Linked DNA regions of Homo sapiens. The protein of the gene in region 2 purifies or fractionates together with the protein of the main gene of each other region. This does not show direct contact. Each region holds a gene or a part of one and is shown on either strand. Other genes may lie near its edges. The genes, in order: RIOX2 and PGGT1B.

Region 1 (3,820 bases), on a different chromosome or scaffold from region 2:
TCTCTCAGCACCATACAATATGTGCTTCCTTTGCAGGTTTATGTAGGTGGAAGTCATACAGCAACAGCTCATGGAGGAATTTAGTAGAAGTTAAATAGTGCTCCTCTAAGAGTCAGAATAGATATTGGGACTTCCCACAATTTAGGAATATCTCTTGAAGGGTCCACTTTGGTAAAACAACCAAATCAACAACATACAGCAGACCCCCAAACACTCCAACAATGCTACCTTGACAGGTGTTAGGAAGAGGCCCCAAATATTCACCTTTACATGGTACCTGAAGGAGCATTAGGCTCAAAACACAGGATCATTTCTGGGGAGCAATGGCCCTCAAGTCACATCTTCTCATTCTAGCTCCAGCATCACTGTCCAAGACACAGGTCAAAATCCAGCCTGGACACATTGATCATGGTACCCACCCACAATCCTAAGCAGGCAACTTCTGTAACTTAGGAAGCTCTTCCCAGCCCCAGCTGAAAAGAGAAGAAATGAATAGGACCCAGGGGCAGCCGGCCAGTTCCTCACTCTTGGGATTGGGAAACAGAGAGTGAGTCAGGTCCTTAGCAGAAGCAAAAGCTAACAGGGTCAATGAGATGGAGGTCAGAGTAGCAACTGGTGATGGCCTAATGTTATGAGTAAACAGAAGCTGAAGAAGGAACAGAAGGGAGAAAACACCAGTCACTAGAAAACCAGTTGGTAGCAGCAAGAGAAATGGAAAAGAGAATTACAGAAAGGGAGTACCTGAGAAACATTAACGATGGGACACCCACAGATGCACGGATATTCAAAGGGCCAAACTATGTGGTCCAGAACTGCTCTGAATCCAGAATGGACTTCTAATTCCAGCCTCTCTGTAGCCTGGAGTTTCTAGGACTCACTCCCTCAAGTGACCCTGCACTTCTTGAGCTGGCTTTGGTGACTTTCTGTCCCTTAAAATGCAAGGAACCTACCTAGCCAAAGTGATGAGGGCATTTTTCAAAATGGAAGCCTAATACAAACTTGGGCCTTCTACTTGTGGGAAAGATAGCACTAAACTAGGGCCAGGCCTCAGCTAATTCCTCCAGTAAGTCTTTTAAATGTAGAGGTGAAATTCACACTGAAAAGTCTGATGAGGAAGCAGAGGTATGCTTACTAACTTGTTTTGCAAGTTCTGGCCCTGAAGGTAGGAGGTGACTTGCCGTCCCTTGGACCTAGAATGTCCTCTCCTACTCTGATCTGCTGACCCACCCCTACTTACTCATCCTTTAAGACTCACTCAGCATTGGTGTCATTTCTGAAGGCTTCTCTAATGCCCCTACTTAGCTAAATGCATTCCTCTATGCTCCAAGAGTCTCCTCTGCAAACCTACAATAGAATTTATCACACCATCTCTTCTCCTACAACCAATTCCAAAGTATAAGCTCTCTCAAAACCCCTTCGATAAAATCCTTGAATTCCCAGCAACAAACACAATGTCTAGTACATATTTGTTTAACACATTAACTCATGACTAGTATTTTTTTTTTTTTCCTGAGACAGGGTCTCGCTCTGTCGCCCAGGCTGGAGTGCAGTGGCGTGATTTGGATCACTGCAACCTCCACCTCCTGTGTTCAAGTGATTCTCCTGCCTCAACCTCCAGAGTAGCTGGGATTACAGGTGCACACCACCACACCTGGCTAATATTTGTATTTTTTTTAGTAGAGATGGGGTTTCACCATGTTGGCCAGGCTGGTCTCAAACTTCTGACCTCAAGCGATCCACCCGCCTCAGCCTCCCAAAGTGCTGGGATTACAGGAGTGAGCCACCACGCCTGGCCATGATTAGTATTTTTAAATATGATTTGGACCAGCAAGGTTGCTGCTTTTTGGATATAACTCACACAGCACTGCCACCCAGTGAGGAGGTACTAGCTGAAATGAACATGATTTTAATTGGAACTGCTGTCAGCACATGCACTTTAGTTCCTGCTGTTCCAGACTGCCTGTCCTACTTTAACTTCATGGACTGTAAAAAGAGAAACCCTCAAAGAGACCAAGAGATTTCAATGGGTACAGAGTTTCTGTTGGAATAAACATGTTTTAGAAACGAATAGTGGTGATGGCTGCACAAGAGTGTGAATGTAATTAATGTCAAACTATGCTTTAAAATGGTTTAAAATGGTATATTTTATGTTCTATATATTTTATCATATTAAAAAAAAAGAGAGAGAGTATGAGCCCAGCCTGGCATCACTAACACACTGATGTACCCACAGCTAGTCTCTTTCTTTCCAAACTATGTGACTCTCTATTTGGGCAATGCCCCACATCCTACAGAGTCAGGTTCATGATGTCCCCAGAAGCAAGTCCAGAGGGACCAGTCACATACATGGGACATCAAAGGAATGTGGAAGTCAGTAAAGGACATAAACCCTGGGGTTTGCATAGGAGGTAGGGGCCAACTCCCTCATATCCCTCCTGAATGTGGCTGCTGCAGGCCAGGACTCAGAGCTGTCCTAGCATGTGCAGCTGGGAGGCAGTGTTTACTTGTTCTGGTAGGTGCTGATGGTCACGTGAGTAGAGTGGGCCAGCCCCGCAGGAGTGTCCGCTTGATGAATGGTTCCTCTGGGAAAGTACAACAAATCACCCGGCTAAAGGAAGGAATAGGAAAGGGTAGAGAAGTTAATAAGTATTCCTTCTCAGTCCTCTTCATTTCAGGGAGATAAATATGGGCTTTGAGTCTCAGTTCTCCATTCTAGAAACCACAACCTCAAGGCACAGTCTATATGCTGGGCTCATGTCGTGTGCAGCTAGTCTAGCTTCTCTGTGTCCGTGAGCCTGTCACTGTTAACCATGATCCACGAGAGGCTCTCGGTGCCTGAAGTCACTATCTTTTCATTCTCAAGCTGAGACTAGACTCACCTGAGACTACCCTGCCCTGATGCAGGGATCAAGGAAGGTAACATCCTGTGCCTGGGACGCCTGCTTCCTCCCTCTTGCATGCTTCAGTGGTTAAGAGTAGGAGCTTGAATTTAGAGTCACACAGACACAGCCACTTACTGGCTGATGATCTGGCAATTTACCTGCCCAAAGCCTCAGTTTCTTTATCTGTAAAATGAAGTTTAATAGCCCCAAACCTTACAGGATTATTTTGAGGATTAGAGATGCTGCTTCCAAGCTCTTAGGGCAATGATGGGCATGTGATTGGATTATATGATTTTATCCGCCAGTCCCCCACTTCCTGATAATTTTTGAGTACTTCTAGGCGCAGGGTCTGTATCTTACCATCTTGTCTTTCCCAGAGCCTACCCTAGCAAAGCACCTAGCACTCAACACAGGCTCAATGAATGTTGGGATGAATTGAAAAACTATACAATCCCTATTTCAACTGAAAAATAAGATGTAATCAAAAATTCATCATTTTCTTGGGCAGCTGAGCCTCCTCTACCCTATTCCAAGTGGGTGGACCAAAACATTCTCCCCAAATTACTCCTGCCCTGAGCTGCCTCCTTCCCAATCCCACTCAGGCCAAAATATTCCATGTAGCAGCTACCTATGGAGAAAAGAGGGAATCTTGAGGGCAGCTCATCTTCTCTCTGCAACTACAAGAGGTAGTCTAGTGCAATGGTTAAGACCATGAGCCCTGGAGAAAGAGCTCAAGAAATGCCAGCTTAAAAAAAAAAATTAAGATTCTCCTCAAAGCAAGAGGAATATATCATGATATATATTCATAAGAGCTATCTTAGTTGCAAATTTTCCCTGAATGACAACAAACTGACAGTACTTCAAGTAAATGCTTTACTGATAATTATAACTATCATTTACTGAGTGTCTCTGTGCCAGCCTGAGTGAGACTCTCAGGT
Region 2 (3,820 bases):
TGTTACTACCTTTATTGCCTTCTAACCTTTCTTGGTGATACAGAAAAAACAATTTGGGCTTTTTATATAGTCCTAAAGCCATTATATATATGCTACTTTAACTTCCAATGTCTAAGAGATGACTTAGTTTGAGATATGGATGTCTTAATCTGCCAGGATTTAAATAGTAGCAACTGGAATAACCCATAGACGGATAACATCTGTTATTAAGCTTACTTTTTCCCCCACCATCAGAAGATTTATTTTATTTCTAATTAAAAAACATACAGTTGGCAAACTCAGGTTTAAAACTAAGCATGCCAATAATAAATCAATCATTTCTCCAAGTACACAGTGTTTCCCTTGGGAAGGACTGTTATTTCACAACATTTTTTTCCCTCTGATTTAGAAAAAAAGATAACATTTAAAGTATTACAATGCCTAAACAGTGATACCAGTAATCCAGTTTTTATACTGATACTTGTATTTCAACATTTATTATCACCAAGACTAACTTAAAGCCAACTCCTTTAGTGAAGAGATTTCTTTCCCCATTTCAGTACTAGACGCAATAGTTCTGAATGTCACTGAGCAAGTAACGGATATGAGTTATTGATAAATTAATTACTAATGAAGAGTTTTTATACTACCTCCTTTATAATTAGCTAGTTCATAGACTTAAAACAAAACAATGAACAAAAACAAAACCCTATTTCTTACCCTCTAAATGGTCGCATTTCCCTTTCACTTACCTGAAAATATGAGAATAAAAATGACCATGTATTGAGTTACACCACTGAATCTGTTTGAATGGTTCTGTTTTTGTATTTTTTACTTATTTAATTTGAAAAAAATTAGAAAAGTATTAGTTTGAAATTAGAGCAGCTAACACACTGGGGGCAATAAATTAAAAACTTCAAATGGCTAAAAATGAAAACACAAAGTATCTTTCCTTCTAGATAAAAAAGATTGTTTTCTTCCTAGAAAGCAAAAAAAAAAAAAAAAAAAAAAAGGCAACTAATGATTTGAGAATAAAATCAAACATAACTGGTATTCACCACAGCAATGTCTAGATAAATGACCCACATAGCACAAAACTTTCTCATTCACAATCACATACAGTTAAGTTGCTTTTCCCTCAGTTACATAATAGTTGTCTTCAAACAATCTCCTTTTAGAAAACTATCACATTAGTTAAACCTATTTATTCTTACTATGAAGTTATTAACTTCATTTATATAGGCCACACAGGTTTAATTGGCACACTTTACTTAAGAATAAGACAAAATAAGTCACTCTTCTTTAAAAAAAATTATGGTCATCTGTTTTCAAAGAATAATCCCAGATACTTAATTAATTAAAGCAAATTTTCTACGATCAGCAGTGAGCTTTTTAAATGATCACTAAGTGTTCACCTGAAGATTATCAATGCTATATGAAGTGTAAACTTGAAAATTTGTGTCCATTTTATAATAAGATACAATTTGCACTGAAGAGTTTTTAAAAAGATAACCTACACACATACAGTTAATTTGCCTCAAACAACTTCTTAGAAATACAGTATAAACATTTAAGAACCACGACAAAGTTGTGGTTCAAACTTCAACAAAGATTTTCTTGAAACCCAGTATAAAGATTACTGGCTCAAGACCATATCCCAAAGTGAAATCAGCAGGAGATTTGATTGTAAGACTCTACCTTTTAAAAAAAGAGCACACTTGGTTATACATGGCTTTTAAACTTGAGCTACAGTTATGCTACAAATCCCCCCACCCTCCCAATCTAAAATCAGTCATGTGGAGATATGTACATTCTCTGAGCATTGTTTAGAGTCCTTGGTTTTCCAGCTTTGATGGAGATCTAGAAGGCGTTCAGAAGTCCGTGTGCTTACATTCAGAGCAGGATGAACTTTACAAATTCCACTTTCCTCCATTAGTGACAGGCCACAGATCCCAAAGTATGCATGCAAAGCATCTGAAAAGAAGGCATTTAAAACATCATAATAGGCATTCTTACTTGTACATTCTACAGAATATTTTAGCCACATATTTACCAGCCCATCACTCCATTAAAAGTAAGTTTAGAGAAATGCTAATATAGTTTTAAAAATATTTGCTTTCTCAAAGCCTCAAACACCAATTAAAAAAAAAACTCAGATGATCAAAATAAAATATTTTATTCATGAAAATATCATTAACAAAGGAAAACAGTTTCCAGCTGAAGAGCTGATACTGTCCATAACCTCTGTGATTAAAAGACAGGAGTAGCAGCAGTCATATGTAAGACTTCTCACTTTGGGGAGTTTCCCCTCTTGCTTACTAGAGAACATGAAAACGAGTAGCTTCAATGCTATATCATTAAGTTTTTTTTTCTTTAAAACGAAAACAAAACTCTGAATCTAAGTTGCAATATCCCTCGCTCCACGTTTTACCTCTGAAAGTTCCTAAACCATATGCAGTACTATCCTAACATTGTGTTAAATAAAAGGAGCTTATGCAAAAATAATCCATTCTGGAATGCTGTGCCATATTTAATCCTCCTATTTAGGGTAATGTCAGTCATTGTAAAAATATCTGATCTGACAATAAAAACAAACTCACATTCTATTTGGTTGAAATAATATGAGTGCTCATACCATGACAATTCTGCACTGGCTCACTAGTTTCCCATCTTTCAGGGGGCAGCGATCCTCTTCTATTAAAGTGGCCAATGAAATCACATGGCCATTCCTGCCTAGGAGTCTTATGTAGACTTCTGAAGAGCTCAGAGCTTTGCAGTTATAGGAACATTAAAAAGACAGTTTTGTACCAGTCAAAATTTTTTTCTATTTTTGAATTGGCCGACATTTATGGCCTTAAGAGCTATTAAAGTTCAAAACAGGCTGGGTGTGGTGGCTCACACCTGTAATCCCAGCACTTTGGGAGGCCGAGAAGGGCATATTCCTTGAGCCACAGGAGTTCGATACCAGCCTGGGCAATACGGTGAAGCTCCATCTCTACAAAAAATACAAAAATTACCAGGTATGGTGGCGTGCGCCTGTAGTTCCGGCTACTCGGGAGGCTGAGGTGGGAGGCTCACCTGAGCCTAGGGAGGTTGAGGCTGCAGTGAGGCATGATTATATCACTGCACTCTAGCCTGGGCAAAATAATGAAACCCTGTCTCAAAACAACAACAACAAAAAGTTCAACACATCTTACCACATCAAACTTTGTCAAAAGAGTTAAAGAAAAAGCTTTACTTACAACAGTATCACTTATTTTTCAAAACAGAAATGACAAATAGCTGTGCTTACTCAATGCCATTGTGAAAATGTTATTTAACTAATGGAGGCCCATGTTGATCACCTTTTAGGCCTTTTCAGAAAATACTTAGGTTTCTTCTGGCTCACTTTCCTTTGACTTTCAGACTATAAAAAATAAACTTGATTTCACCTGTCATATTACATCCATATAGTTATTCTAAAACTACAAAGGGTACAAAGCAACATTAAGCTTTGTTTTCTAGAAACTAGGAAACTTTTCTAGGAAAAAGTACAACAGAAAATATATATCTATAATAACATAAAATAGAACTGTGTAAAACTAAAATCTCTCTGGGTAAAGTAACAAATAAAACTTATTTGTTTCTCAAAAAGATTTTTGTAACAGCCAATGAGATCAGAACTCAATTGTTTGAAGCCTCAAATTGTGTTTTTAAAAAAACTCCTTATCTGTAAGTGGCAACGTACAAGCACTTTAGATGTGGAACTATATGTTTACTCCATAATAAAGCACTTTAGATGTTGAAATATATATTTACTCCACAATAAAAGGTTATTCTTTTGAAGTTTCTTTCATAAATG

What was found.
Region 1: the proteins of PGGT1B (region 2) and RIOX2 purify together in Homo sapiens (affinity purification with mass spectrometry, with the first as the bait; one large-scale study listed by BioGRID). This does not show direct contact.

The regions. Positions count from the first base shown.
Region 1 is NC_000003.12:97,951,888-97,955,707, forward strand, and holds part of RIOX2 (ribosomal oxygenase 2), read right to left. Parts: intron 2,609-3,820; coding exon 2,505-2,608; intron 366-2,504; coding exon of another isoform or gene 308-365; exon of another isoform or gene 265-307; intron 255-264; exon of another isoform or gene 1-254. UniProt on the Homo sapiens protein: Oxygenase that can act as both a histone lysine demethylase and a ribosomal histidine hydroxylase. Is involved in the demethylation of trimethylated 'Lys-9' on histone H3 (H3K9me3), leading to an increase in ribosomal RNA expression.
Region 2 is NC_000005.10:115,210,631-115,214,450, forward strand, and holds part of PGGT1B (geranylgeranyl transferase type-1 subunit beta), read right to left. Parts: intron 1,954-3,820; coding exon 1,772-1,953; 3' UTR 1,678-1,771; coding exon of another isoform or gene 1,648-1,677; 3' UTR 1-1,647. UniProt on the Homo sapiens protein: Catalyzes the transfer of a geranyl-geranyl moiety from geranyl-geranyl pyrophosphate to a cysteine at the fourth position from the C-terminus of proteins having the C-terminal sequence Cys-aliphatic-aliphatic-X.